Linked DNA regions of Homo sapiens: region 2 is linked to region 1. Evidence: fine-mapped QTL for protein levels in blood plasma. Region 1 holds a variant in brackets. A gene starts in the other region. All regions are shown on their reverse strands.

Region 1 (16,377 bases):
GCTGCAGTCATCAATGAGAGATGAAAGTGGCTAACAGTAGAATCATGGCAACAAGGACAGAGAGAAGGAGTGCAGTAAGGAGATGATTTAATCTGGAAGCAATTTACCTATTAGATGGTTGGATGTAGGGAGAGAGAAAGAAGGTTTTGAGCAGATCATAAAAATGTTTTTTAAAAACAATCATAACAACCATGTGCAAACTATGAGAAGCATGCTTGCCAGAAGCTTCTGGAGAGACAGCAAATGCAGGCGGGTTCCTCACCAGGACATTTGTCCTCCTTGTAATTCACCGCCCACTCTGTCAGCCCAGGCTGTCTGTAGCAGCTGTAGAAGGGCCCTTCTACAGGCTATGGTCATCAGCTGATAATTATTTTTCTAGTTTTTTCACGAAACATGAAGCACTTTGATAGATATCAACCAAGTGTTGGAACAGGTCTTCTGGCACGAAAAGATAGACAAAGCACTTAGAGCTTCCTCAGGGTATTTATGTGGTCGAATGCTCCTAGCTTTGAAAAAACTGTGGCAGTTGGAAAAAATATTAATAGTTCTGTCTCTCATGAGAGACAGAAATGAGGGATCTGTGGTTATTTGTATTTTAATAATAGCATATACTGTTGCCTGTCTAATTATAAAAATAATATCTATGCAAAGTGAAAAAATGGAGAATATGGAAAAACATCACCAAGAAATAACAAAGGATTGGTAATATTACTACCCAGAAATAAATGTCTTGATACTTAGCTTTTTAGGTTTTTTCTATATACATGTACTTCTTTTGAAGAAAATTTAGGTCATAATGCACATCTTGGTTTCTTTTTCTTACCTAAACAATTGCTTTATTAGGGTAGATTGAGTTTTGGGATAAGTGTCTATTACAAAGACACACAAGAATATAGTGGTTCCAATAAGATATAAGCTTTCTTCTCTCTCATGTAGGGAGAAAGAGGTCCTGGGCAGCTCTGCTCCTGCATTAGCCCAGAGACCCAGGTCTATACCGTCTTGCTCTACACTCCCCGGAGCGTTGCGCTACTCCCTATGGTTGAAGCAGACCCAGCAGTACCACATGGTATCACACCAAAGAGAGAAGGAGATGAAAAGAAAATGGGAGGCAAGGAGCTTCCTCTTTTAAGAAAATGCCCTGGTAGTTTCTCCCTTCTTTTTGGACCACTTCCATTTGCCAAAACTTAACAACATGTTGTAAATACACCTAGTTATAAAGGAGCCTGGGAAAAGTTGGTTGCCCATTGCACAGCCATATATCTTGCAAAACCCCTGCATGAAAGAGCTTATTTCTAAATAAAAGGGGAAAATAGATACTGAGGACATTTGTCAGCCTCTGCCTCAAGTCACCCAATCACTCAGTGTGCTTTCCTAACCACATAGAACATACTTCTCCTCCAAGGGAGGCGGAGTAGTAACTATCCAGTTACTACTCCCACTCAAAGTCCAAGATTTCTAGGTGACATGAAGTCCTCTCCAGCAGGACTGAAGGTGGTGAGATCTGAGGACTTATAGACTAATAAGCATGTTTCCTGGCACCTTCCTCATACTTAATGGTTCAATAATGGAGTCAAACAGGAGAGCAGCGATAAAAACTCCCGTTTGGAGAAAAGGTGAATGGGAAACAGAGTCATTATGGTCCTAAATAATAATGCAATCTTATTGGGAAGAAATTGTGACAAGTGAAATTGTGACAAGTCTCAGCCAATGCAGAAAATTCCTTGGTCAGTAGACACAAGTTCTCCCCTCTGGCAGAAACTCCTTTGTCCACTGACCTCTTTGAGACTCTGCTTGTCCATTCACTTCTGTGGCCACAACTAAAGTGAGTGTGGGAAAACATGCCTTCCTTGGGGATGGACAACTTTCCTTCCTGGGGGTTGCCTTAGGGATCAGAAAATTACAGCTTTTGCAGGCCAGGTTTGTGGTTTCTTTGATCCCATAATTCTTTCAAAATTCTTAGCAGTTTTCTGGACTGTTTGCTTTCAGTCATTTCCATGAACATGGAAGGATAGCCAAAGGTCTTGTCTGCATAAATCTTAAGTTTCTCTCATTTATTTCCTCAGCTCTGTCCTTGGACTATTTTCTTTCTAACTCAGTAGCAACTTTGAGGCCATCTGAAATAACAGGCTTGGGTGAGACAACGATATGTTTAATTTTATATTTGCTATTGGATTGGCTCCCATGGTTCCATGAAGGGGCCCTGGAGGAAGGCTCATAGACACAGTATTATCTCTTTCTGCTTATGGTGCTGAAGCAGTCCAATTTTCCAGCTCCATGAAGCTTAAATTACTGGACAGTCAATTCACACTGTAGTCCCAAGCACAGGAGACATCCTTATCAGAGTTGTATTTCCTTCCACCTCTACTTGCAAACTGACACATTCTTGCCAAACTTCATCTCTCTATTCATCTCTGTCTACTAAAAGCAGCAAGGAGCAGCAGCCAGCAGAAACCAACATTCCAATTTTGTTTCACTGTTTCCCCCAGAGCTCCAGGCTTGGTAAATAGATAACCTGCCTTCAAAGTTATCATAGGACCAGTTTTACCAAATGCTTTGCTGTGGTTTGAGAGAGGTCACCAGCTTTGCAGCCTGCAATATCTGTCTCCTTGCTGCCTATAACACAATTGTTACACAAGAAAGATATAGTTTGCATTTTTGTTTCCCCTGCAGGGTACTATTTCTGGTACCAATTTATGTTTAGCCATGATTCAGGCTAACCTACTCTTACACAAGGCCCCAAAACACAGTATTGGAAGATAGATTGATTTTTTTCTCTCACAAGATAAGGAGTTGGGGATGTGAAAGCATCTCTGTTTATGAGGCCATGCAGGAACTCAGGTCTCTGTGGTCTTGTTGCTTCTTCACCTGCTAGGGTACCAGCCTAGATGCCTTATTCAAGCTTGCTCACAAGTACCGCATCTGCAGTCTGGCCTAGGGTGAGTGGAGAGGAAGGAGGGGGCAGGCAGTTGCTTTCTTTGATGGATGTGACTCAAGATACTCATGTCATTTCTGGTCTCATCTCAATTTCAAGGCAGGCAGGGAAACCTGTGCCTTGCTAAAACTTGGTGGGAGTGGGAGTCTACTACTGAATCCAAGATGCCTAAATAGATAGCAGGAGCAACTCTTCCACACTGTTGAATGATGAGTATTTCCCAATATCCTTAAATGATTTTTCAAACAAAATTTTTATTGGCTGTAGGATATTTCATCATATTCCTCTGTCATTGAACATTGTTTCCCAATTTTGGCAGCAGTATATAATGCTTTAGTGAACATTTTTATTTAGCAGTTTTTACATACATCTCTGGATTATTTACTTGAGAGAGATAGAGACTTAGAAATGGAAATGTTGTGTACAAACACTTTAAAGGAAGCCAAATGCCTTATAGAAAGATTGTAGCAATTTGTAATTCTGGCTGCAGTATGTAAATCTGCTCCATCCTCACATAATCTCCAATACTTAATATTTTTATATTGTAAAACTCTTTAAAATCCAATTTAATATATTCTCAACTTTGTAAGTGCTATTTACTGCAAGAAATAAAATCATCAACAACAAATTTACTTATTGGCCACCTATAACGATATTTCTCTAAAGAATCAAGGTAATAGAATGATTTTTTAAAGGTTCTTCTTGCTTTAAGGAAATATTTGAGTGGTGGAGGGGGAGAAAAGAGCCAGCCTGGAGCATCCTGAACATATTTTATGCTGTGTATATTTTTGTGTGAAACTTGTTTTCTAATTAAAGAAATAAATACAGTCTCATTGTGAGAAATTTGGGGGAAAAAACAGAAAAACATAAAGACAATGAGAATTATACTAATTAGACCAAACTAGAAAATCACCTTTTAATAGCTTATTGTATCTGTACCTTATTTTTATAAACTTTGTTTTTTGGTGTATATATTGTTTCAAATCCTTTCTTTTTTACTTAAAAGCATACCTACACATTTTCCCATGATATTAAAAATCCTTCAAGAATCTAATTTTAATAACTACATTATATGGCTATAATAAAACTAACATTTATTAAACATTCATTAAAATAAGAGCAATTGAATTCAATTATTCCAAACACAATATAAGGTCGATAATATTATAGCCCACAGTGGCAGATTTTATTATTGTACCTAATTCTTCACCCTTTTGTAGAGCCAAGAACCGATTCTCCTGTCCACTCTCCAGGGCACATTTGACAATGTTTGGAGATATTTTTGGTTGTTCCAACTGTTGGAGTGCTACTGACATCCAGTGTGTAAAGGGACACAGGGTTGCTGCCAAACACCCTACAATACACAGGACAGTATTACAATGAAGAACCCAAAAGGTCAATGGTGCCAAGGTGCTATAGGATCATGACTTTTACTGTGCAATTTTGTTTTTCACTCCTTGACTTGGGTTTGGCCAGTGTGACTTGCTTTCATCAATAGAATGAGGTGGAAATTACAATGTGACATTGTCTTATGTGTTTTCACTTTTCACTCTTGTGGCTCTCCTATCACCATGTCAAGAACATGCTCTGTCTATCCCACTAGGTTAAGAGAAGAGGACAATCGATGTGGAGCAGTGAGAAGCAAAGCTGCCCAGCCAAGTCCAGCATACATGCACCTGTGTGAGCGATGACAATGAACGATTGTTGTTTAAGGCCTCCGAGTTGTGGGGTAGTATTTTATTTCGCAATAGGTAATTAATAATATATGGATGAGAATACTAACTTATCCCCCAGGTCAGAAAATTAGTAAGTGAAAGAGCTGGCTTTCAAACTCAGACCTAGCTGACTTCAGAGCCCACCCTTAACCATTAGACTAGACTGTCTTTCTAATGCCATCACTTACATAACCATTCCTATGTGCCACACCTAAGTTGTTTTCTGTGCTTGGCAATTGCAAATAACACTTCGGTATACATCTTTTTACATAGAGGTTTATCACCAATGCTGATTTCTCTAGGATAGAATTTCTCTGTGAAAGGACTTGGACTTTTTAAGGAACTTGATGCTTTTTGACTGAATAATTTTTAAAGGAGATTTACATCATCCAATTCGTTCTATTAATTAACAAAAATTCCATGAGCTAATTAAGAGTTTAATTAATATTTCCTACAGCCAGCACTATAATTTTAGATAAAGTATGTAATGCATCAGAAATGGACTCTTAGGCAATGTTCATACAATTTGAAATGCATGAGGAACACTTACAGTCAGCCATGGAGTATTATGCAAGATGCAATTTATTCGTGCTTTTATATTATATATAATAATATATATATATCTGAAGAAATGAAACCCACTTCTATAGCAATTCATTTTCAGGAGGCATTTTTAGGAATAAACCCAGTAAAAAAAAAAAAAAAATGGACCTGTCTAAACAAGACACTGCCTGAAGGTGAAGTTAGCAGCAATTGTGCAGCAGCAGAGGTGTTAAAGCTGGCTGAAGAGTGATAGTTTTTAGAGGGTCTATGTCTAATAAAATGCATGTCTAAGAGTGACATGTGAATAATGTGACTTTGTAAGCCTCAGTAAAAAATATAGATGGATGCAAACGTCTCCCCAAAGCCAGCATGTGACCCCAGTGAAGAAAGCGGGATTTATTTGTGTTGATTTTCACTTACCATAACCACTTCAGTCTGCAGAACATCACTGTCAAACCCCTCCTCCCATAGGTGATGGTCAGCAAAAACCAGTACCACAAAGAAAGACCATTGCTGTTTCTCTAAAGGGAAGGCAGAGGAGATGGAATAGGTAGACTTGAGGCAAGAAGCTGAACTGGGGTTTTACATGTTGAAATACGTGTTTTGATCTTGCCTTTAGACAACATCAGGGGCTAAGCCAACACCACCTCCTCTGCCAAGCCCACTTGCCTGGGAGCGCCCAACTCTGCCACTTGTTGGAGGACAGCACAAGCCTGAGACCTGTGCAGTCACACAGGGCCCTGCATGCAGAAGGCCCCCCACATTTGGCACTGGAGGTTTTTCGTAATTTTATATTTTAATTTGTGTTTTACAACTGAAGTCTGATGGAACACTGGAGTATGCTTAGGGGGCTGGGAGTGTCACCCACAGCTCATCCCTCTCCTCATTCCCCCTCCCCTCACGACTAGTATAGCCCCCACTGAAAATGATGACTCTCTCCCTCCCTCCTTCTCTTATTAAATATTTCTTGGATAGCCCCTAGTTACTGGGGCTACAAACCCATCTCTACAAAAAATGAAAAGTAAAATAAATTAACTGGGCACAGTGGTGTGTTCATCCCAGCTACTTGAGAAGCTGAAGTGGGAGGATTGCTTAAGCCCAGAGTTTGAGGTTATAGTGAGCTGATCCAGTAACTATACTCCAGTCTGAATGACAGAGTGATACCCTGTCTCAAAAAAAAAAAAAAAAAAAAAAACACACAAGACAAAAAAAGAAGGGGAAGGAAGGGGAGGGAATGTTAAAGAGGATGTTTGAGTGTACCTCGTGGATGAGGAGCAGATAACCAGATAGAGAGGGGAAAGGCTGCCTGGATCAGAATGCACAATTACAGGTGTGGAAGGGCATGCACGATTAATGAGGCAGCAGGTGGTATTTTGGTGAGACTGGGGCACAGCACATAGAAGCCAGGGGACAGAGAGTTCAGGAAAAAAGCTCATATAAAGAAGTTGATGCCAGTAGATGTTTTGCACTTAATTTGTTGGCATTCAGAAATGACATGAGGCTTTGGGACAAGTGAGTGACAGGTCTGTAACTGTGTTTTAGAAAATTATCCTGCTGGATGCTATGGAGGAGGGCTGAGAGCCTCCTCAAGGTGAAAGTTGGGTAAGAAGAGCAGACTAGGGCTTGGCCACATCAACTTGCTGACGTGAAATGGACTTGTCGAGTTGAAACATGTTTCTCAGTCATCTTAATGACCAATTCCTGCAGTTATTTGTGCTGGTTGTGCAGCTGATCCAAAGCAGTTGTCAAGTCATCTAGGAACCCAAAATGGTTATCAATCTCATGTTTTGTGCAGCCAAGTAAATATGGAAAAACAAGCCTTGATTAGGCTCCATCAGGCCCAAAAGGGCTAATGTTAAAAGAATGGAACATTTTCATCCCAGATCCTCAGTATATTGGCTAGAGCAGAAAATTTAAAGGGAATTTTTGATTCTAGAAAAATAGACATGTGCTGGAAATTCAGCCCCAAAGCATTACATGTAAGCCAAGTAAGCATGGGATGGGGGTGGTTCAGATGAGGGTCACACAGCTGTGAGTGCAGAAGTGTTCAATGGGGTTTTACCGCAGAGAAATCTTCCAGTTTGCGTTCTGTACACAAAAGCGGCATAAAGTCCTTATCAATATGCTTCTCCATAGGCTAAGCATATAGCTCCCTCTGCTCTCCTTTGACTTCTGCCCAGACGCTGGTTTATGAGAATTGCCAAACCTATTCTTTTCACCACTGGGGGCCCCTCAAAGACACTGGTCAAGCCCAGGCCAGTTGTGCTTCTTATTACTAAACAGCCATAAAGGAAAGCAATGTCTTAAGTCCAAGGGAAAAGGTAGCCCTCTGTATCTTTCAGGGTAGGCTCAATTAGGCTG[C/T]GCCAACAAGCAACTCCAAATTCAAAAAACCAAGAAGGGATTTCTTGCTCACATTCCATGTCCATTGGGATCAGGGAGAGACTCTGCCTTACTTCGTGCTCACTCCAGGACCCAAGATGTTGGGAGCTATGCCATATGGAAAGCTACTCATTTTGGTAGCAAAGGGAAGAGACCACTAGAGGTTTTTGCACTAGGAATTAAATGCTCTGGCCCAGATGTGACACACGTCACCAAGCCTACAACACATGCTCTAAAACCAGCATTGTGACCCCATCCAGTTGCAGGGTGGAGTAGATGTGTAATCTATCCATGTATTGGAAAGGAAAAAAGAACTGAATGTAAATGAAGCCTAGTAGTTACTACCAAAAGCAGAAGTAGGCATCCACTGAGCTGAGCTCCTAGGGAGAGCGTCTCACTGTGTAGTGTAGGAAAAGAAACAGGCCATGGAGGGGCTGATTCCCAAAGGCCTCAGGTGTGACAGCTCCATGGTGTGACCTGCCCCTTTCAGACCTTACTCTCAGTTTCCACAGGAGCATACCCCTCTGCCCTTTGCCAAACAAATGAGGGCAAGTTATACTACTGATGTTCAAAGAAAGCCATTCTGAAGGATAATGTTTCTGTTGACTTCACTTTTGACTGTTAAGGAGCATGGAGAACTGCTCCCTGGTGTGACAGGGAGGATCTTGAAAGACACTGTGAATTTGCTGTTGGTCCTCAGCCCAGTATCCCTAGCTCCATACCCCCTTTTCTGCTCTATCTTTACTGGGGTTCCTTTCCTCTCTTCAATTGCCCAGTGGCTTCATTGTCTTTCATTTTGCTTCTCACCCATCCCAATTAAGTTCTACTCTCCACTCCTTCACTCTCCAGTCCTTCACCTGCTTAACTTCTACCCAAACTTCACGAAAATTGGCTCAGCTGTTATCTCCTCCTGGAAGCCCTCTCTGAACTTTCTGGGATGGACACTGTGCCTCTCTTTTGTGTTCCAAAAGCCTAAGGGGTATCCAGCTGTACCCCCTTATCTGTGGTTTCGGTTAACCCGGCCTGAAAACAGTTGAGTACAGCACAATAAGATATTTTGAGAGAGAGAGAGAGACCACACTTACTTAACTTTCATTGCAGTATACTGGCATAACTGTTGTATTTTATTATTAGTTATTATTGTTAATTTCTTACTGTGCCTAATTTATAAATTGAACTTTATCATATGCATGTATGTATAGGAGAAAAAACATAGAATATGTAGGGTTAGGTACTATCCATGGTTTCAGGCAACCAGTGAGGGTCTTGGACCGCATACCCCATGGATGAGGGGTCCACTGTGTTTATATTATGACACTTTTCACCTTACATGGAAATTTGCAGTCTCCTCCTCAAAGGTCCTAGAAGTCAGGAGGCCTGTCATTCATCTTTTTGTCCCCACTGCCTGTCTGGCACTAGCAGATGCTAAACAAATGAAGGCCTAAATTTCTGCAAAACTTCTTAGTCTAGGATAGTACCAACAAATGTCCTACAGAAATCCCTCATGCTCCTTTCCTCCAGACAGAAATTTCAAACACCCCAAGAGTTATGAGTTGCAAACCTGCCAAAGCTTTGCATCTTTGAGATCGGAGTATTAATCTCTAATACCTAGAAAGAGCACCAGGCAGAAAACAGGTACCTGAACCAGGAAGACCATTTCCATCATGAGACTTGGAAGTTTGCTGAGCATTCCTAACATTTTTTCTTCCATCACAGTCCCTTGTTCTGGCATCAACTCATTATGGAAAGGGGAGAAGGGAAGTGAAAAGGAGAATGGAGAACCTGGGACCACTGCCAAAAAAATCTTAGACCACAGTGGGATCACACATAAAGAGCAAGAAGGTGCCAGCTCTCAGAAGAATTGATCTGTCCCAATTCAAGGCATGCAGCCCTTGCTGGAAGAGGGAAACCAGCCAGAACCCCCACCATCTCCGTTCTCACTTCACCAAACCCTGCTGGAGTGACAGCTATTCCCCACCCGGGATTTCATCAGTCTTCTACTTGGCAAAGCTTCCATGGGTTCTTTTATTAGCTAAGGAAGCCACCATTACTTTTATATAAATCAGCAATAGGCCAGTTTATTGTTCCCAGGAGACCAAAAATTACACTATTTGAAAGAAGAGGGACTGAAGAAAAAGAGTTAACTCTGCTCTGCAAAACAGGACACATGTCAATTGTTCTGAAAGCCAGTACCTTTCTTGCTCTATGGTAAAAGAGAGTCTTGCAAATTGTCTGAACAGCTGGTAATGTGTTCCTCCTCTTCCTAACGAATTTATACTATATGAGCCTAATGACTTATGCTTGCCTTTGGTAGAAGCATGTGTGGGTGTTTTTATGTCTTATTTAGTGGTTACTCACTGAAAAAGTAGTAGACTAAAAAAGGCTGTCTGCAACTCCCACTGTGATGGAATCTTCAAGGTGCCTGGAACTGGAGTCCCATACTCTAGATCTCTCTGTGGGACTCAGAATGCAAAGAACTTTCTACCCATGCTCCTGTCTCCACCATCAAACTCAAACTAGTTGAAAGATTTGTAGGGCAAGAGACTACAAACTGTCTGCCTGCCATCTGCCCAAGTCGGGGATATGTTTGAAATCCAGACTGGTCACCAAGCATTGGGACTCTTTGCTTGGAATTGGGAATTTAAGAGGTGGCATCTTGCCCTATACTTGGAACCCTCAGAACTTTCATACCTGGCACTACACAGGATTAAGAATGGACCCTTGACCCTAGGTCCATCTCTGGCCAGTCGGAAGTAGGAAGATATTACCTGGGGTGCTTTAGGAAATGTTTTCCTGATCCTTAGAAAGTGATATAAAGGGATAGTTCCCTTCTTCCTCTGAACTTTGCTGTAACTGATTTGATGGCTGGAACTGCTGGGGTCATTTGGTTACCATCATGAGGGTGAAGCCAACACACAAAAGGGAAGAAAGCAAAGGCCATAATAAGCGGAGCTGGAGCCCTGACATACCACACCGGTAGCCTGATCTACTGCTGGGTTGCTTACTATGTGAGAAAACAAATTTCCTGATTATATTTCTTTAAGCCACTTTGAGTTAAGTTGTCTGTGACTTATATTAATAAATAAAAGCATAGTAAGTCACACTCCTCAAATACACATGGACACATACATACACACACACACGCACACACAATCTATGTTCTCTAGATAGTCCTTGCTGTTGGAAATGCTATTCGTTAGTGAACCATCCCTTTCATTGGGGAATATTCTTTCTGCCATTTCTGGGAAATGTTCTTTTAAGTCTGTTTATTTTTGTTTTATTTTATTTTATTTTTTTGATTTCAATAATTTTTGGGAAACAGGTGGTTTCTGGTTGCATGGAAAAGATTTTTTGTGGTGATTTCTGAGATTTTGGTGCACCCATCACCTGCGCAGTGTACTGCACCCAATATGTAGCCTTTTATCCCTCACCTCCCCTCCCACCCTTCCCCCCAGGTCCCCAAAGTTCATTATATCATTCTTATGCCTTTGCATCCTCATTGCTTAGCTCCCACTTATAAGTGAGAAGATACAATATTTGGTTTTTCATTCCTAAGTTACTTCACTTAGAATAATGGCCTCCAGCTCCATCCAAGTTGCTGTGAATGCCATTATTTCATTCCTCTTTATGGCTGAGTCATATTCCATGGTGTATATATGCCACATTTTCCCTATCCACTCGTTGGTTGATGGGCACGTAGATTTGTTCCATATTTTTGCAATTTCAAATTGCGCTGCTACACACATGCATGTGCAAATGTCTTTTCCATATAATGTAAGTCTTTATTTTTTTAAAGTTTGTTTTAAATTTTGTTTGATAATATATTGAGTCCTTACCAAATGTTAGACACTCTAGGCTCTGAAGAGTATAGGTTAAGAGACACAATGAAAAGATGGAGCTGGTCTTTAATGATTTGGATTTTTTTTAAATGAGGGAGAAGAATTGGAGAGGCCACTGTCTTCTTGGACTCCCCTCATTTTCACCATGAGGCTCACTGCAGATGAATCAGCTCCACCAGGCAGAGAGGAAAGTACAGAAGTGCTCAGTGAAGAGGAAGAAGAAGATGGATTTGGCCCTGACACCCTAATTCATTTCTACCTGGAAGACATTTTTATTTTGCCTGCAGCAAGGAGAAAGTGATCCATTGCAACTGTGATTCAAGGGTACTGCCTTCCTGCCTTCCTCCTTTCTCTTCTGCTTTAGAAGAGAGAAAGGTTTGAAGAGACAAACTCATTCTCTAGAATGTAAAACCAGAGCTCAACAAGAGAAAAAAAAATCATTACAAATGTCAGATCAAGGTAGAATTAATTTGAATATCTGGGTTACCATAGAGACCAGGGCATGAATTGACCCCACTGACCCCTCAAGTTTTCCCGAAGATGATTTCTGGTTCAGAAGGTGGCACCAAAATCCCTGGAAATGATTGCTGGTTTAGGGGGGTATGAAGGAGCCAGAGTGGGAAGGCAGCTCAGGAAAGCTGTGAGATGTTCACTGGGTCAAACTGTGTAACTAACTGGTCTTACTGATTTTGAGAACAGGGCTCTATTCAATTCCGATTACATTTTATTCTTTATGATATGTTTGCGCATCTATTGTTTTACTTGAACTCTCAACAACTCTGCAAGATAGGTGATGTGGCTATTAATATTTCAATTTTATGAATAAATAAGTAGAGTTATAGGAAGTTTAAGAGCCTTATCAAAGGTATGAAATGATTATTCAAGAGACAGGACTAGACCCCTTATCTCCAAACATCAAATTCACTCATCTTTTCACTCTGTCATACTTCACTGCCATGGGATTACATGTAAAGGCACTACACCTGAAAAAACCAACAATGATAAACGGCCCCTTTGTCTCCATCCTAACCCCCTCCACTCACCTAATTCTATGTGGTTCTGGCAAGAAATTGGGGTGAGAATTTGAAGGGCCCTTAAGTGCCACATGACAAAAGCTGGGCTGTGGATGCTCACAATTGACAGAGGACACAGGTGAATTCATCAGTCATGTATTCAAGAGGCCTCTATGGTGCTCTTCTCTGCCCCCATTATGCACTCAGCACCTTTGGGAACACAAGAGAAGCACAGAGAACACACTCCCCCCGTGCTAAAGCAGCTCACACGCCTCTAGAAAGATGAGATAAGACTCGGGAAACAATTAGTGGGTGGTCCAAGATAAGAGATAATCAAGTCTTAGATTGTGTGATTAAAACATAAAGAACAATAGGAGTTCACAGAAGAAATAGATCACTGATGGATTCATGGAGAGGTGGGTCTAAGACAGAGATTTGAATGATGGTGGGAATCTGGCCAGGTGAGAAGTAGGAGGACAGCTCAGGTAGAAGGAACTATCAGTCACATTGTCTGTGACAGCAGAGTGAAGAAAAAAAAGCCCTGTGGTTTTACATTCAGATCCCAAACACACACACACACAGTCCAGATGTCACTTAACATTTATGAGTCCGTAAACTGGGATGACGGTCACTGCGTAGAAAATAGCGAGGGTTAAAAGAGATTATGTATGAGGTCAGCTCCTAGCATAATGCTCAGCACAAAGGAGATTCTTGGTACTTTTTGGCTAACCTGAGGAGAAAAGGAGCATGTCCCGCTACTGCCCAGTTCACAGTTTTTAACCATGAGACATATGCTGTCATGGATCTTTGAAAAGAAACAAATGTAGATATTTCTTAAGCATTGATCCTGGTTTAAAAGACACACACACACACACACACACACACACACACACACACACACACAGGGCCTGGCATTGCATGGTGGCTCATGCCTGTAATCCCAGCACTTTGGAAGGCCAAGGTGGGTGGATCACTTGAGGTCAGGAGTTCGAGACCAGCTGGCCAACATGGTGAAACCCCATCTCTACTAAAAATAACAAAAATTAGCCAGGCATGCTGTGGCAGGTACCTGTAATCCCAGCTACTCCAGACGCTGAAGCACGAGAATCGCTTGAACCAGTGAGGCAGAGGTTGCAGTGAGCCGAGATCACACCGCTGCACTCCAGCCTGGGCGACAGAGCAAGACTCCATCTCAAAAAAACAAAACAAAACAAAACAAAAAACACACAAAAATGCTTTAATAAGACAATTGATAATTTTTGACAATTGGATCTAAAATAGTCTATAAATCCTTTTTGGTGATGAGAGGGAAGTTATTGTTTATGGAAAGACTGGTGACTACAGTGCTACCTTTTACAAAGCCAAATTGAAAGGACCAGAGTGGCTGGTGCCAGAGGCACTGGAAATTTAAGAAGACGGGAATGGGGAGAATATATTTACTTCTCTATGCAGAAAGAAATACATTTTTGGACCCTGGGTTCACCTGTAGGAGTCAGGCTCCTAAAGGGGAACTGTGGAGGAAAATAATAACCCCCATAAGTTCTTAGTTGGAGTGGACCCCTGCTACAAAGACAGATTAACAAGAGAAAAACAAACAAGTGTATTAACACGTAGATATCATATGTAAGTGGCAGACACCCAGAGAAGGAGTAGTTCTCAAAGAGGTGGTTTGAATTCCAGCTTATATAACATCAGCAAATAAGAGAACATTTTTAGAGAAGTGACAAGATAAAGGAAAAAAAAAAGAATTTGAGTCTCTACAGGCAGCCACATGGAGGGAAGGGAAATAAATGAAAGGTGAAGGCTAGTTAGTCCCATTTGTTAATGTAGATTCCTCTGCTATTATTTCCAGGCTGATGAGGGTCTAAAGCTGTCTTCAGTGGCCAACCTTTGTTCTCCCTGGTAGAGTAGGGAGCAGGGCTGGATACGTTTTGTTTTTGTAAATATCTGCCCTGCTTTTAAGCAAATAGAGGGAGGGCAGAGAGCTTTCCTGCATCTGCTTCTTAATTGCCTTCAACTCTTCATATTTTGGTTGACATATACCGATCTCCCACAACAGTTTCCTCTAACAAAGGCAGCTGCTCAGATATTAAGGGAGATTCTGATGGACTTCAGGAGTCCTTTCACTGAGTGAGCTATGCAAGGCTGGGCCAGATGTGAACTGTTCAGGGCAGCCAAAAGGAGCCTTCCTGCTTCCACCAGCAATGCAGCAGCACTCTTCTCTGTCCTTTCATATACATTGTTCTTCTCTCTCCTAAACAAATCTTCAACAGATATTTTAAAATATTTATTTATTTATTTTATTTATTTTGAGACAAGTTCTCACTCTGTCACCCAGGCCGGAGTGCAGTGGTGCAATCTTGGCTCACTGCAACCTTCGCCACCCCGGTTCAAGCAATTCTGCCACCTCAGCCTCCTGAATAGCTGGGATTACAGGCGTGTGCCATCATGCCTGGCTAATTTTTTTTTTGTATTTTTAGTAGAGATGGGATTTCATCATGTTGGCCAGGCTGGTCTCAAACTCCTCACCTCAAGTGATCCGCCTGGCTCTGCCTACCAAAGTGCTGAGATTACAGGCATAAGCCACCACGCCTAGCCTCAAAATATTTATTTAAAGTAGACTACGTTGGTCTGCCCCACGTGGTTCAGGACCTGCCTTCTGATACATCTGGGGCATTGAATGACAGCAAAAATCTCCCTAAATCTCCTGTAAAAACAAAACTATGTCATAAGAATTGCTTGTTTTAATAATTTAAAGGCTATAGATACTAATATTAACAGTGCATAAAATTTCCAAAGGATTTTATAGTAAAGCACAAATGAGAAAGATTTTCTCAACCCTGTTTGCTTGTTTTTCTCCCTTTAGCCAGCTCTCACTAACAAGAAATCTAAATTCTTGCAGTCCTCTTGAGCCAGAATCTTAACGCTCTTCTCAGGCCAGGAGGTGCTCTACAGACATTGTAGCTTGTAGAGTTGGATGTTATGGGCCAATATCTGAGGCTTACTTAGGAATTCCTAGGTTTAAAATGTCAAGGTTTCTATTTTAAAGAAAGACTTTCTCACAAACCCTTATTATATCCCACAAAACAATGTACGGCTGACTTTGAATTCCTTTCAACAATCCATTAAACACACATGCACATGCACACACACACACACACCCCTTATTAAACAGCCACGCCACAAGGATACCATCTTTACCCAAGCAGCTTACATGCTACAGGGACATTTCAATTAATTTATCTCTGTCTGCCGTGCTTACTCCCTTGTTGATGTCAGTAAACAGGGTGAACAAGCTGTCAAGTCATCTTTAAAAAATTAACTCTCAGCCTCTTGGGTTTGTTTAAGGCATTTAGGAAAACATCCTCCTTTCATACGGCCCTGCTTCCTCATCTTGTCTTCTGGAATCAGGAAGAAAGGTGAGAAGATGGGCAACAAGAGCAAAAACTCCGTCTCAAAAAAAAAAAAAAAAAAAAGAAAGAAAGAAAGGTGAGAAGATAAGTGTTTGGAGGAAATAATGGGGTGTTGGATGCTAAGCTTGGTTCCTGCAGGGTTTTCTAACCCCTAATTCTGAATACTTAAGTCAAAGGCTGTAAACAATGAAGGGCAGCACGCTGGGGAGAAGTCACTTCTTCCCATTCTAAATAGCTGGCTCCTCACTCCTCTTTCCTCTCCTCCAGCTGATGTGCTTTTCCCAAGCCCCTAGTGTATTCTTTTTCAAAAATGCACAGGCCAGCAGTCCTGAGCCTAGATTCATTTAGCGCCAAAAGCTGCAATCTCATTTCTCTATTGAAAAGATGAGTTTTAATGCTCTTTATTATTGAATTCAATGGCAATGTAACAACAGTCACGGAAATTTTGAAAAGAAGAAAACATCCGTAATCCCACCTCTCCAACACAGCAACATTCTCATGTTTGTCTCTCCCCTCTGGGATTTGTCTCCCTGCAGTCACCCG
Region 2 (16,377 bases), not on the chromosome of region 1:
TTATTCAACCATAAAGAGGAATGAAGTACTGACATGTGCTGCAGAGTAGAGGAAACTTGAGAACACTATGCTAAGTGAAAGAAGCCAGATAAAAAGGCCACATTGGAATGATTCTATTTACATGAAATGTCCACAATAGGCAAATCTACAGAGACAAAAAGTAGACTAGTGGTTGCCCAGAGCTTGTGCAGATGGGAGGTTGAGGGGTGACAGCTAATGGGTACAGGATTTCTTTTGGAGGTGATGAAACTGTTCCATGTATTGTAGTGAAGGTTGCACAACTCTGTGAACATACTGAAAACCACTGAGCTATACACTTCAAATTAGTGAAGTATGTGGTGTATAGATTATAACTCAACAAAGTGGTTTTTAAAAACCTCACTCCTAAGAAATAAATTGAAAATGTTTCAATGAGGAGATGTACAAACGCTAACACATAAAGTATGATAAATTGACGAAAAAGTAAAGAAAGAGGAATATAGAAATTTCTATCCATTCCCTTTTACAATAATTATGCAGCTTGGTATGGCAGAGCACCCTAGCAAATGTATTCTCCCTAAAAAACTACACTTATTGACACCAGTGATAGGTGGTGGGCATTTGTTTTCACACACACACAAACACACACATACACATACACACACACACACACAATGGCTTCTAAGTCACATTTATGACTGCATAATAATGTCTACACAAAATAGATTTTTTTTTGCTTTTTTTGTGATCTGCAAGAGATGCGCTAGAGTAGGCTTCATATTACAACTTCAGAAAGCTCTTAATATCTACTGTGACACGTTTAGTCATACATTATACATAATTATGCTAAATTATTTTTGCTGTCATTCACAGTACTGAAGGATTTGGGGAAGATTACAGGTTTGGGATACACTTGTAAATCATGCTGAGAGAAACACGCCAAATCAAACTATTTTTCTGGAGGGTAACTTCATTTCACACTTCAAGAGCTGTTGCTTTGGAAAACACTTTGTTTTGTATTTAAAAATAGAAGTACTAGATGCTAAAGTAAAAATTTATTGAAATGGTTTAAGGAACGCAATTTACCCTGCACTAGTAAGCCCTGGTAGCTGCCCTAGCATACTTGTCTGATGAACTTCCATACATTTCACAAATAATCCTGCAAGTTTATTTCACGTTTGTCGATTTGTTTCATTTCTTTAAATGTTAAATGTATACTGTGAAAGGAAAATAAAATCTTGGGACCCCAAACTCACTAAGTCAAAGGGAAAGTCAACCTAGGAACTGGGTCACTCAAACCTGCCTCCCATTTTGTTCTTAAAAAGATAGCTACAAGGATAAAAGGCTACATACCTCCCTCACAATTTTCTCACAGGGAAATTCCTGTGGGCCCTGAGATCTTTACCCCAAAACAGTCTGGTTGAATTTCACCCTCACAATGTAAATTAACAGCTTACCTTCATAAGTTCAGGACAAAGGACAGAACTAAAAGTCATTCCTCTTCTCACCTGAGACAGATGCATGTCTGACAGCTTCCTCTAGTCTATGTTTACTTTATCTTATGTAGAAATGCAGATTCACTGAGCATGAGACAAATGCATAATTGACTATTCCTCTACCCTCTCCTTTCACATATAAAATGTGGGCTCAGTGAGCACTAAACAAAGACTCAAAGGAATGCAACCACTTGCCTCTTTTATCTGTCCTTCCTTTCTCCTATTGCCTGTTCTTTCCCCTTTAAATACTGAAGTCCTCGGACTCTTTGTAAACAAACATGGACCATAGATGTTTCTGGTAGTTTTGTGTTCATTTTTCCCAGGTGCATCCTCAATTTTGGCAAGATAAGTCTCCAAAAATAATTGAGACTCACCTCAGTCATTTTCTTTGATTTGCAATAGTTTACTGGTATAGGAACTCAGAAAACAATACTCCATAATGAAGGCCTCAGAAGCAGCCTCAGAAGCAAAAGCTTCTCTCTGACCTTCCCCTGCCCTCCTATCTCTGGCCCCTCATTCTCCCCTGAGACTAACCATAGAAACTAGAATCCCTCTTTCCCAAAGGCAGGTTATAGAAACCAGAACCTCTTTTCCCCAAAGCCAGCAATAAAACCTGAAAATATTACCCTAAGTCCCCCTGTCTTTCTGTGTAACAACTGGCCTTAAAGAAATTCTCTGACCCCCCTAGTTTAATTGTATGTCATAAGACCCGCATTGCAGAGAAGGTCCTGTCCCATATCAAGAAGGAAGAAATGCTGCACGGAGAGGCCAAGAAGAATCTGGACAGGCTTTGCTGGGCCACCCCACTTGGTCTACTAGTATAAGGTCAAAACCTTTTTGTCCAATCATATTTCTACATGGCTGCCCATGTTTTGTTGGACATAAGCATAAAGATGGACAGTTTCTCCTGTATCTTTAGGTCTTCGTTCTGAAGGCTCCTGTGTCACATAAAAATAATTTTGTATTCCTTTTCTCCTATTAATCTATATTTTGTCAGTTGATTTTCAGCAAACCTTCAGAGGGTGAGGGGGAAGTTTTCCCTTGGCCCCTAAAATAATGATAGGAGTTAAAAGCCAAAGATTCTCAACCCTAAATATATATTACTATCAACTGGGAAGAGTTTTAAAAATGCCAATGCACAAATCCCATCCCAGGGCAATAAATCCATTCACTTGGGTGGGCACAGGAATAGGTTTGTTTTTAAAGTTCCACAAGAGATTTTAACACTTGATCTAAGAATTAAAAATATCATAATTAACCAGGCTTGGTGGCACGTGCCTGTAGTCCCAGCTACTCAGGAGGCTGAGTGGGGAGAATTCTTTGAGCCAGGGAGGTTGAAGCTGCACTGAGCCATGATCGTGCCACTCCACACCTGTTTGGGTGACAGAGCAAGACCCTATCTCAAAAAAAAAGTATATATATATATATATATATATATATATATATATATATATATATATCACTCGATAATGCCTGAATATGCTGAATATTGTCTGAAACATTGGGCTCAAGAAGTCATCTAATCTTATTTTTAATGTATTCAATAAAATAATAGAAATCCTAAGATAAGGAGCCTGAACAGGCTTCTCATTTCTGCTTTCACACAACTCAAATGGTCAAACAACCTCTCATGTATATTATGGGCATTATCTCTCCTCAGCATAGTTATTCTTAATTTGTGCTACTTTCTTTATTCTAATTCGCATAGTGTATATCAGTCCTTATGTTTGATACTATCTTAATTTCTTTTAAAAATCCTTCAATTAATATCAACAGAGAAAAACATATGAAAATGCTTAACTATACCAAAATCAAGCTTAATTTAATAGATGTTACTTCTCTTTAGATACCACAATCAAAACTTTTTAAAAAATGTGTTAGGTTTATTTCTTCAGGAAAGCAAAATTTTCTCAAATATGATATTCTCAAAATAACCCTTTCAATGCTTTCAGTTTCACAGATCAAATGAAAGTTACCTCATCATTTTAATTTTCAAAGTGAAATTTGAATAGGGTTATAATTTCATGATTCTCTGAAAGCTAGCAAATGTTAGAGCCTTGACAGAAGGTCAATGACTATTGAATTCTCTTGTATTTTCTTTAGCTTCTCTAATCTAAATAATTAGAAAACTGGGGATGCCATTGTGCATTTATTCTAAACCAATGAACGTTGTGTTTTCTCACAAAGAAGTGCATGCCCCAAGTGCTCAAGTTTCTTAGGGATGGAAGATTCTAAAACACAAGAAAGATGCCCTAACTTGCTCAGGATTCTAGAAATACTCGTTAGCATCCTGACCTAAAGCAATAATTTCCCAGATGCAAGTCTAGTAAACTAAAATAAAAGACACTCTAGAGTTCTGAGAGAGCTGATGTTGCCACCCAAAAAATATAGTCCAACTGTAAGCATTAAAGAAAATCAGATCTTAAACCCCTTGTTAGGTTTGCATTTGGTATTTCTGATAAAAATAATTATAATTTTGTGAAGTGCATTTCCAAACAAGAGCTCCAAACTTTTATAAACATTTTGGCTACTATTCAAAAAAGAGTAGAAGCAGATAGGCAGTAGCCATATTCTGAATAATAAATGTGAACCACAGCTACAAGCCTGCAATTAAAAGTCCAGAACTTTGAGTTCTTCTTCAGTGATTGGTTAATGTTATTTCTACATTCTACATGCTGTCATTCTACAGTGAGATGACGTAACAAAAGGAAATAAACAACTTGAGTTCCATCCATTTGGAAGGCGGTGTATTAGAGAATTTCTGCCCCTGTGAATTGTTTTCATAGAGTTGAAAAGAGCCAAATGTTTAGAATGTGGAGAGGGAAACTAAAGTCAAGATTTCAGGTGTGTAGCCAAAACTTCTTTCGGCTCTTAAGTAAGGAAATTTGTTCTAGCATTTTCTCAAGGTTAAGATACATTTGTAAAATATATATCTTCTTTTATGTAAACCAAAATGAAGGAAATAGGCCAAAAGAAGAAAATAAAGGTTTGAAAAGTCATAGACTCTTTTTTCTTTTGGAAAACAATTCATCATATTAATTTGCTTTATTTGTCTTAGTATTGTTATCTTCAAGAACACAACTGAACAATACATTCATTCATTAGCAGTCAGTAAATATTTATGAACATGCAATGTGTTAGGCACTTTTCTAGCCCATATTCTCAAAACCAACAATTTAAGAAACTCTAATATTTTGGTAGCTTTCTCCATGTACAACCTGTAAATGTACATTAGCAGGAAACTTTAATAATAATAAACAATAATAATAAAATAAGTTGGTTTTATAATAATAAAATTAACCAGAATCCAACTAACTAGAACCTGCTAGAATTTGTTTTCTTATTACTCTTTGAAAATAGAATCAAACTTGGCCAGGATATGAACTCTACCAGGAATCCAGAGAAACAAACAAACCAAAAAAAAATCCAATTCTTCCTATTGTATGTGTCTTCAGGTCAATTACGATGAATCCAATATTATATGCTTTTAATCACAGGAATATACCTCTGAGGTGCCCCCAAAATTAAATATAGATTTGGAAGGCCTCTAAGCATCTGAGGCACATTGTTTTACATCACCATTTTCAGGTAGGTAAGTGGACTAATACCCTTTAGAAAATAGTTTGTTCGCATTTTTAAACAACAAAGTTAAAATAAGATAGTCAAGCCTCAGTTAAACAGAAAGTATGGTTAACCACAAGTTACTGCTCTTAAGGAAGACAAGTTGCTAAAACACATGGACTCTTCTAAACGTCACACAGATGAAGAAGTGCACTAAATACAGTAAATAAAAATACATATGGACATTTTAAAATATATGTTTTAAAATGCAATATTTTAAAATATAATTATATTCAACATTTATTGAATTCTAACTGTATTCAAGGCATCATGCTAACATGAATACAAAAAACATAATTATCACACCCTCAGTTATTTCAGTAGTTTAATCATCTTTTAGTTACTTATGCAGTTCATAATAAATGTTACTAGATGCTCTCTAGATGAATAACATTTTAATTTAAAAAAAATTCTTTTTAAAGTCCTGCCATTCAATAAGTTTAGCTTTTTTTTCACAATCTTGTAGGTTGCAAACATTCCCTTATTCATGAAACACACTGTAAAAGTTTTATACGTTTTGCTAATTAAAACTAAATTTCAAAATGACCTTCCATCTGCCTCCTGTTCTATAAACTATCCCTTTTAGAAGTGTCATGCAGAGATCTAATTAAAGCATTACCAAGAAAAACACCTGGCTGTATTGTCTTAACATGTCATTTTCATATCATTATTTACTGTGGCATAAACAACAGGCACAAAAATAGGAACTGTTTTTACCCAAAGCGCAGCTCTCCCATCTCTCTCTACATGGTATAATGCCTCAAACATGTATACATATTTAATATTTTCCAAACAACCAGCAAAAGTCATTTTAAAAAATTAAATGATGAAAATGACTTACCCTCCGTAGTTCACAAAGAATTTTTTCAAAAAGTCTCAAAAATCAGGTTGATGTTCTCAAAGAGGAAATCTATGCCCAATGAAGCCACTCTTGTGTTGATATTCTGGACACTTCTCTGATGGTGCAGGAATTTAAACTCTGCTGCAGCTCTTCATAGCCAATCAACCTCAGGCTGGGGGTGACTGACATCACAAGGTGTCACCGGGACCCCGGTACACCCACACTTCCTCCAGCTGGCAGAGGCACATTTTCCCTAAAAAGCTCTTGTGGTTCCCAAATGACTAGACTAGTTTCCATTAAATTGAAGATCTTCCCAAAACTTTATTTTGATTTCTAAATATATGTCATTCACATTCAGGCAGTCTTATGAACAATGACAATGTCTTCTACCCACCGACAGATCCCAGCAGACCCAAGGATGGGAAAGGCGGAGGCAGGGGTGGGTAGAAAGTTTCCTGTTAATGTACATTTCCAGGTTGTACATGGAGAAAGCTACTAAAATACTAGAGTTCCTTAAATTGTTGGTTTTGAGAATATGGGCTTTTATTTCTTCCTTTTTCCTCTTTTAACAACCTCTACTACTCACCTCCTTTTCCTCTCATCTCCCCACCCCCATATACACACAAAGTTCCCAAACTCCTACTAATCTAATAAAGCGTCCACTAAAGTACCCCCCTTAAGTAGCTATTGTGTTATTCAAGAAATTTAGATCTAACACTTAACACTTAATCATTCCCTGTTTGCCACATTTTAATGATTCTTTGAAATCAGAATTGGATTAAGGGGAATACTAGCTGGGTAGCATCCAAGGAAACTAATCTTGAAGGGACTCTGTGCCACCACTGAAAATGTAATGAAATGGATAAAATGATATTTACCAAAACATTTTCGAGGAAGCGTACTAAAAGTTGTAGGGAGCTGGAAATGGGTTTGGCAATTTCCCAGGAGCGTGTTCAAGTGACGGCAGGATGGCCACTGAACAAGAATTTAGAGAATATCAGCTGCTGGACCTTAATTTCCTTAAGAGTAGGGATGTTTGCTTGTCTACTGATCTATAATCAGTGCCTGGATACCTAGAACAGTTCTTAATAATCACTCAGTACTCTTTGAATGACTGAGTGGATTGGCTTGAAAATTAGCCAAACTATTAACTTGATTACAGTATCTGCATAACTCACTGTAACTTTTAAAAAAATGCTTTAATTGTTAAAAAAAAAATTGAGCTGATGCTCCTAACATGGATCTAGAAAATTAGAGTGCCCAATTTATTCAGGCAACTAATGTCAGATATATGGATTATCAACATATTTAGTGTGAACTATAATATGCGGGGGAGGGTGGTGCAGACAATGAGGAAAGAGATGTCTATTTTCATTTAGGGTTGATTAGAAAGCCAAAGTCCATATGGGGAAGCTATAAATTCCCTGTGATTTGCTCTGGTTCTGAATTACACTCTCTGATGGTTTCATGGGTCTTAACTGAGATCTATGCTAGAAGAACCTTATAATCTTATGACAGAATTGGATTCTGGGCAGATTTGGGCAGATTGCATTACAAGACATTATTTTAGACTCTCTTCAAATCCCTACATAAAAACAGAGGAGCAATTAGATAACAAAATTGAAAACTGTGGATAACATTTACAATAAAACTAGGCATTTTTGTTATCTATTGCTATATCAAAAACCACTTCAATACTTTGCATTTTAAAACAACTACCATTTTCTTATCTCTCACAGCTAGCATTGTAGTCATCTGAAGACTCAGTTGGGGCAGAACATTTCAGATGCCACTTTCATAGTTGTTACCTGAGAGCTCAGCTGGAGCTGTAATTCTGAGCACTTTAGTTCTTTACATGGCCTCTCCTTGGCTTGGCCTTCTCACAACCTGAAGGCTGGGGGCCAAGAGTTCCTAGAATATCATTTTTCCATATTCTGTTGGTCAATCAATCACAAGGAGATCTCAGATTCATAAGGAGAAATACTCTCTACCTTTTGGTGTCAGATCAGGATGCACATGTATAGGGAGCAGAGGAAACGTTGAGGTAGTTTTTGATTAGTTACCACCCCTTATGACAAGTTATATCCACTAACTCCAAGGTGACTAAGGACAAAGTCCACAACTGCCACAAGACCTAGAGAGTCTATGCAGGAGTGAGCGGAGGAAAGCAGCAGGAAATCTGATGAACATGAGAACAGCAGAACCCAAAGCAGTCAAGAATTATTGCTGATGGGTGCCAATGGTTCATAGCACAGCTGAAGGATCTAGACCAGTCTAGCCCCTAAGGATTCTAAGCCACTACAGCTGCTTTCTAAGACAGACTCACATACAGGAGAAACTTCTGGGAGTGGAATAAAAATTGCACAGGATATAGACAATAGAGAAGACACAGATAAATATGGGAGAGGGGAATGGATCCAAGAAATCTTAGAAAGCTGCTATTTTTTTTTAACATAACACGAAAGCAACAGAAGAGGGAGCCGTGTGAAGTTTGAAAGTTACCCTGAACCACATTTCTTTCTAAAAGTACAGGAAAACCACTTTCATATAAAACAAACAGCAAAAAACTATGAAGGTTAAATCCCATAGGAGCAGAATAACAACCTGATAGACAAAGTATGCTTAAAAGACATAATTAAATAATAAATTAAAACCCTAAGCTTCTATTTTTAAAATAGTAAAGAAGTATCAAGAAAATGACACAATAGGTGAAAAAAATACATGGAAACTAGAATAATTCAGAAAATAAATATCAGGACTCAGGAAAATATTAGCATGAAAGAAAAAATTATTTTAGAAATGAAAACTAATCTAGAGGGAACACAAAAGAGAATAAATATAATAGGTAATTATTCAATGGAAGTAGAAGGCAAAAAAGAGGGAAATATTTTAAAGTTAAAAAAATAAATAAATAAAAAGTATTTGGGAAAAAGTGAATTATATTAAAGATTGGCAAAGAACATCCAAATTGTAGATTATAGGAGGCCTAAAGAAGATAACAAAAGTGAGAGAACAGCAGAAGTACTAAAAAACAAACGAATAACAAACATATCATCGAAGGAAGTTTCCCTGAATTTAAAAAAAGAAGATTAAAAACTCTCATTTAAAGAGCATATCATGTACCTGAGAATATTGGCCCAAAATGACCAACACCAAAACATATTCTAATAAAATTACTGAACTTTGAAGGTAAAGTCCTTTGGGCTTCTAGGCAAAAGCAACAAGTGATTCATAAGGGAAGGGATATTAGATTATCATTAAGACTTTGACAGTAATGCTTCATGCCAGGAAAAATAAGGTAATATACCTAATGCATTCAAGATAAGAAAATGTGAAGTAAGGATTTTATAAGTCAGCAAACTGACTTTTAGGTATGAGAGGCTAAAGCAAACTGCTATCAACAGGCAAGAATTCAAGGAATATTATTTTCTCAAACCATTGCTGGGGAATCTACTAGATAAAGAGTTTCAGTCAACCAAAATAACTAGAGAGGCATTGTCGTAAGAACAGGTGATAAACATAAAACATATAGTTACTTGTAAAAATGTAATTAAGTGAGGCTAAACGGGAGACAGCACGGTATATAATAACTAAATACTTAGCATTGATATAGTGCAGCTTTTAAAAAGGTGGGGAGAACGGAGAGCATATGTGCAAAAATAATTTCAACTGCTCTCAATAATTATACTAGTGATGGCAATATTATTGTTATTCTGAGAATGTTGTATGTATAATGTGGAATAAAGTATATTAGTAATTTTGAATTATTCTCTTTCTTTAACCAATGCATCCATGAGAATCAGGATTCTCAGTGTGAAAGAAAGGAGATACAAATTTGATACAAAAGAGCAAAAGCCCTTTGGGAGGCCGAGGCCAGCAGATACCTTGAGCCAGGAGTTCCAAACCAGCTTGGGCAACATGGTGAAACCTCATCTCTACAAACAGTACAAAAAAATTAGCTGGGCGTGGTGGCTCCCACCTGTAGTCCCAGCTACTCAGGAGGCTGAGACAGGAGGATTGCTTGAGCCCAGGAAGTCAAGGCTGCAGTGAGCCATGATCACACCACTGCACTCCAGCCTGGGTGACAGAGTGAGACCCTGTCTCAAAAAAAAAGAGTAATGAACTCCATAATCCTATAATCCTGAATTTAAATGGAAAAGATTAGAATTTACTCAGGGATTATTATAAAGACACACTCACGCACACACACACATATCCTACATGTATATCTTAGCTCTGTCACTATAGAGACCTAAAAACACAGTCATAGCTAGGACCCCTAGAACCCGGATTATGATCTAGCATCTGGGGCCTGTTGGGAAATTGGTTGATACCAGGTCTATGACCCAAAATATGCAAGATGAGTTTGGAACATATTGTCGTCCCAGATTCCAGGAAAGCTATCAAAGATTACTAAGATTCTGTCAAAGGACTCAGGAGCCAACTCAAATAGGCCTCTACTGGCCAAAGATGGAGCAATGTAGTCTTTAAAATAGATAATTTTAAATCTCTGAGTTCATAATGATATTACAAAAATGAAATAGAATACTAATTGGTCACCTTGGGATGATAACAGGAAGCCACTTCATGACCTTGAAAACTTATAAGTAAGTGGAAAGAATGAGGTATTTGTGCAGACCTCTATGAACTAAACCAAATTAGACATGAGGGGAAGCTTATCTTTGTAAAAGAATTGTGTGATGATTAATTTTAGGTGTCAACTTGACTGGATTAAAGAATACCTAGAGAACTGGTAAAGCATTATTTCTGGGCATGTCTGTGAGGGTGTTTCTAGAGGAGCTTGTCATGTGAGTCTGTGGACTTGGTGAGAAGCATCTGCCCCTAGTATGGACAGGCAATATCCAGTCTGCTGGAGACCCCGATAGAACAAAAAAGGAAGCAGAAAAATGATTTCCTCTCTCTCTCCTGGAGCTGAGACATTCTTCTTCTCCTGCCCTTGGACATCACAACTCCAGCTTCTATGGCCTTTAGGCTCCAGGATTTATACCAGGCTACTCCTCCTGACACCCAGGTTCTCAGACCTTGGGCCTCAGACTGAGAGTTACACCATCAGCTTCCCATGTTCTGAGGCTTTCAGACTTGGACTGAGCCACACTACCCTCATCACGGGGTCTCCAGCTTGCAGGCTGCATGCTGTGGGACTTCTCAGCCTCCATAATCACATGAGCCAATTTCTCTAATAAGTCCCTTATCAATTAATATGATATATATATCATATTTATACATATATATTTACATATCCTATTATATATATTTATTTATCTTATTTATATAGGATATATACACAGATGTATATACACACATATATCCTATATAAATAGAATATATAAATAAATACACATAGGATATATAAATACATATAAATAGGGTATCTGTATATAAATATATCCTATATATATAGGATATCTGTGTGTGTGTATATATCCTATAATATACACATGGAATATATATGGATATATACAGATACATACATGTATATATACACATGGAATATATATGAATATATATAGATATATACATGTATATGTGTATATATATCTTATGTATATACAATATATATATAGTGTATACCTATCCTATGTGTGTGTATATATATCCTATGTATATGTCTCTCTGGAGAACCCCTGACTCTATATACATAGCTGTGTATATGCATAGCTGTGTATACAGCTATGTATATAGAGTCGGGGTTCTCCAGAGAGACATATACAGGGGTATATCTGTATATGTCTATGTTACTAGAGTATGTTTTGGTGTTGGTTATGTAATATTATTATGAACTCACAGATTTAAAATCATTTGATAGGTTTCAGTCTGTTGCAATTACTGTCTATCTTAAAGATTACATAGTTCCATCTTTGGCCAGTAGAGGCCTATTGGAGTTGGCTCCTGATATATATCTCTGTACATGTCTCTCTGGAGAACCTTAATACATATTCCAACTAATAAACAGCCAGGCATGATGGCTCACACCTGTAATCCTAGCACTTTGGAAGGCCGAGGCGGGCGGATCACGAGGTCAGGAGTTTGAGACCAGCCTGGCCAATATAGTGAAACCCCGTCTCCACTGAAAATTCAAAAAAGTGGCTGGGTATGGTGGCAGGCGCCTGTAATCCCAGCTACTTGGGATGCTGAGGCAGGAGAATCGCTTGAACCCGGGAGGCAGAGGTTGCAGTGAGCTGAGAACACGCCATTGCACTCCAGCCCGGGTGACGGTGTGAGATTCCATCTCAATTAATAAATAGAAAATGACATAAGTCACCATTTTACAACTCCCAGTGAATTTATCCAGGCATTGCAAATCAATGTCTAGTTAGCTCATGAAAAGAAAGACAACCAGACTATGTGGTTCCTGGTGAAAGAACACAATATCACCTATAGTCTGTTAAAGGGATCAAATTCATTGTGATCAAACTTCTGGATCCAGCCATCAAGTTTCAGGAAATACAAATAGCAGGACGATTTTGAGTTGCATTACATATGTAATCAGTAACATTTAGACTGTGGGAAACTCGACAATTCAAACATCCCAGGTTCTTCATCAGATAAATTATTAGGAAAAAAAAGAGAAAAAAACGAAGTATAGTTTAAAAGATTTTGAGACTTAAAATACACAGCAATCTTTTTTCAATGGGCAAGACTAAATTATAGTGTCAAGGTCACACACTTGGGTAATAATACTTTAAAAAGAAAGTCCAGGAAATGATTTCTATAAAATTCAGGATGGTTGTTACTTCTTAGAAGAAGGTGTTTCATTGAGATAGAGCAAGAGAGGAACTCCGGAGTGAGTTCTCGACCTCTATCTCTCGACCTGAGTGGTGATTTCAAGCATATCTTTCTTATAATAACTCACTAAGCTACAGATTCATCTTGTGGAGCTTTCTGTATCTGAGGTTATTTTACAATAAAAGTTTTAAAATATATTTAAATCCCTGTGTTTATGCCTTTTTTAGAGACAGGATCTTGGTCTATTGCCCAGGCTGGAGTGCAGTGTCACAATCACAGCTTACTGCAGCCTCGACCTCCTGAGCTCAGGTGATTCTCCCACCTCAGCTTCCTGAGTACCTGGGGCTACAGGTGTGCTCCACCACACCTGGCTAATTTTTTATTTTTTGTAGAGATGGGGGCTGGTCTTGAACTCCTGGGCTTAAGTGGTCCTCCTGCCTCAGCCTCCCAAAGTGTTGAGATTACAAGTGTGAACCACCGTACCTGGCCAGTTTATTCATTCTTAATGATACCAAAAACAAAACAATGCACAGACACACACACACACACACACACACACAAATTTCCCAACATTAAGAATATTAAAGAACCAATTCATTATTTTTGAACTTTACCTAAATAAAAATAATCAAGCATTTATCCTATGTTTCCTTTATAAATTATACCACTGGGTAACAAATGAGAAGTTTTTCTTTATAGACATAAATGAAGAAGGAATGATAAAATTAGAATATCATCATTTTGCAAACCCAAACCGAACTGCAAATTCAGTAAAATCCAGACGGAGAAAATCTACAGGACAAACAACTTTGTTTCTTCAACAAATAAGTTGCAAGTAAGAGAGCAAGAAAGAAAGTAAAACCTACAGATTAAAATAGAACTGAGAGACACAGCAATCACTTATGTGAATTTTATTTGTCTTCTAATTCCAAAAAAAAAAAGCTGAAAGAGAGGACAATTACAAAACAATTGGAAATGTAAACACTGACATGAAATCTGATGATTTTAAAGAATTATTTTTATTTTTAGCATGATAATGGTATTGTGACAGTTATTAAAGCGTACTTAGCTTTTTTTTCCTACTTTTATTTTCAATTCAGGGATGTATGTGCAAATTTGTTACATGGGTACATTGCATGACGCTGAGGTTTGGGGTACAAATGATTCCGTCACTTAGGTACTGACCATAGTTCCCAATAGTTAGTTTTTCTATTTTTCTTTTTTATTATTATAGTTTAAGTTCTGGGGTACATGTGCAGAATGTGCAGGTTTGTTACATAGGTATACATGTGCCATGGTGGTTTGTGGCACCCAGCAACCCATCATCTGGATTTTAAGCCCCACATGCATTAGCTGTTTGTCCTAATGCTATCCCTGCCTTTGGCCCCCACCCCCCAACAGGCCCCAGTGTGTGATGTTCCCATTGCTGTGTCCATGTGTTCTCACTGTTCAACTCCCACTTTTGGGTGAGAGTATGCAGTGTTTGGTTTTCTCTTCCTGTGTTACTTTGTTACATGGATGAAGGTTTCCAGCTTCATCCATGTCCCTGCAAGGGGACATGAACTCATTCTTTTTTATGGCTGGATAGTATTCCGTGGTATATATGTGCCATATTTTCTTTATCCAGTCTATCATTGATGGGCATTTGGGTTGGTTCCAAGTCTTTGCTATTGTAAACAGTGCTGCAATAAACATACATGGGCATGTGTCTTTATAGTAGATTGATTTATACTCCTTTGGGTATATACCCAGTAACGGGATTGCTGGATCGAGTGGTATTTCTGGTTCTGGATCCTTGAGGAATTGCCACACTGTACTCCACAATGGTTGAATTAATTTACACTCCCACTAACAGTGTAAAAGCATTCCTATTTCTCCACTTCCTCTCCAGCATCTGTTGTTTTCTGACTTTTTAATGATTGCCATTCTAACTGGCACGAGATGGTATCTCATTGTGGTTTTGTTTTGCATTTCTCTAATGACGAGTGATGATGAGCTTTTTTTCATAAGTTTACTGGCCACATAAATGTCTTCTTTTGAGAAGTGTCTGTTCGTATCCTTTGCTCACTTTTGATGGGGTTATTTTTTTCATGTAAATTTGTTTAAGTTCCTTGTAGATTCTGGATATTAGACCTTTGTCAGATGGATAGATTGCAAAAATTTTCTCCCTTTCTGTAGGTTGCATGTTCACTCTGATGATAGTTTCTTTTGCTGTACAGAAGCTCTTTATTTTAATTAGATCCCATTTGTCAATTTCAGCTTTTGTTGCCATTGTTTTTGGTGTTTTAGTCATGAAGTCTTTGCCCATGCCTATGTCCTGAATGGTATTGCCTTGGTTTTCTTCTAGGGTTTTTATGGTTTTAGGTCTTACATTTAAGTCTTTAATTATCTTGAGTTAATTTTTGTATAAGATGTAAGGAAGGGGTCCAGTTTCTGTTTTCTGTATATGGCTAGCCAGTTTTCCCAACACTATTTATTAAATAGGGAATCTTTTCCCCATTTCTTGTTTTTGTCAGGTTTGTCAAAGATCAAATGGTTGCAGATGTGTGGTGTTATTTCTGAGGCCTCTGTTCTGTTCCATTGGTCTATATATCTGTTTTGATACCAGTACCATGCTGTGTTGGTTACGGTAGCCTTGTAGTATAGTTTGAAGTCAGGTAGTGTGATGCCTCCAGCTTTGTTCTTTTTGCCTAGGATTGTCTTGGCTATACTGGCTCTTTTTGGGTCCCATATGAAATTTAAAGTAGCTTTTTTCTAATTGTGTGAAGAAAGTCAATAGTAGCTTGATGGCAATAGCATTGAATCTATAAATTACTTTGGGCAGTATGGCCATTTTCATGATATTGATTCTTCCTATCCATAAGCATGGAATGTTTTCCATTTGTTTGTGTCTTCTCTTACTTCCTTGAGCAGTGGTTTGTAGTTCCCCTTAAAGAGGTCCTTCATATCCCTTGTAAGTTGTATTCCTAGGTATTTTATTCTCTTTATAGCAATTGTGAATGGGAATTCACCCATGATTTGGCTCTCTGTTTGTCTATTATTGGTGTATAGGAATGCTTGTGATTTTTGCACATTGTTTTTGTATAGTGAGACTTCACTGAAGTTGCTTATCAGCTTCAGGGGGTTTGAGGCTGAGACAATGGGTTTTTCTAAATATACGACAAATTGACTTCCTCTCCTCCTATTTGAATACCATTTATTTCTTTCTCTTGCCTGATTGCCCTGGCCAGAACTTCCAATACTATGTTGAATACAAGTGGTGAGAGAGGGCATCCTTTTCTTGTGCCAATTTTCAAAGGGAATGTTTCCATCTTTGGCCCATTGAGTATGATATTGGCTATGGGTTTGTCATAAATAGCTCTTATTACTTTGAGATATGTTCCATCAATATCTAGTTTATTGACTGTTTTCAGCATGAAGGGGCATTGAATTTTGTCAAAGGCCTTTTCTGCATCTAGTGAGATAATCATGTGGTTTTTGTCATTGGTTTGGTTTATGTGATGGATTACATTTATTGATTTTCATATGTTGAACCAGCCTTGCATCCCAGGGATGAAGCTGACTTGGTCGTGGTGGATAAGCTTTTTGATGTGCTGCTGGATTCAGTTTGCCAGTATTTTATTGAGGAGTTTCACATTGATGTTCATCAGGGACATTGGCCTGAAGTTTTCTTTTTTTATTGTGTCTCTGCCA

Direction of the effects. Positions count from the first base shown, and alleles are read on the strand shown. Strength reflects both the effect of a copy and how common the allele is.
In carriers of allele T in region 1, the plasma level of the protein whose gene starts at base 6,042 in region 2 tends to be lower than with C alone (weak association).

What was found. A credible set is the group of variants that fine-mapping cannot tell apart. PIP is the chance, under the fine-mapping model, that this variant and not a neighbour inherited with it causes the effect. Protein levels are from antibody-based Olink assays in UK Biobank. Linkage for the fine-mapping came from a reference panel and not from the study's own genotypes, which makes the PIPs less certain.
Region 2: DMP1 starts here. The variant in region 1 is the best candidate, but not a certain one, in a credible set for the plasma level of the DMP1 protein (UK Biobank, PIP 0.58).

What each region holds. Positions count from the first base shown.
Region 1 is chr13:42,617,142-42,633,518 of GRCh38, reverse strand. No RefSeq gene overlaps it. Among named protein-coding and RNA genes, the nearest start is that of TNFSF11, 51 kb to the right of the region's middle. The variant C/T (reference allele first, on the strand shown) is at 7,552.
Region 2 is chr4:87,639,945-87,656,321 of GRCh38, reverse strand. It overlaps DMP1 (dentin matrix acidic phosphoprotein 1), which reads right to left and starts at 6,042. Exons shown (of 6, transcript NM_004407.4): 1 at 5,938-6,042. The region is part of intron 3 of DMP1-AS1 (DMP1 and DSPP antisense RNA 1); the gene reads left to right.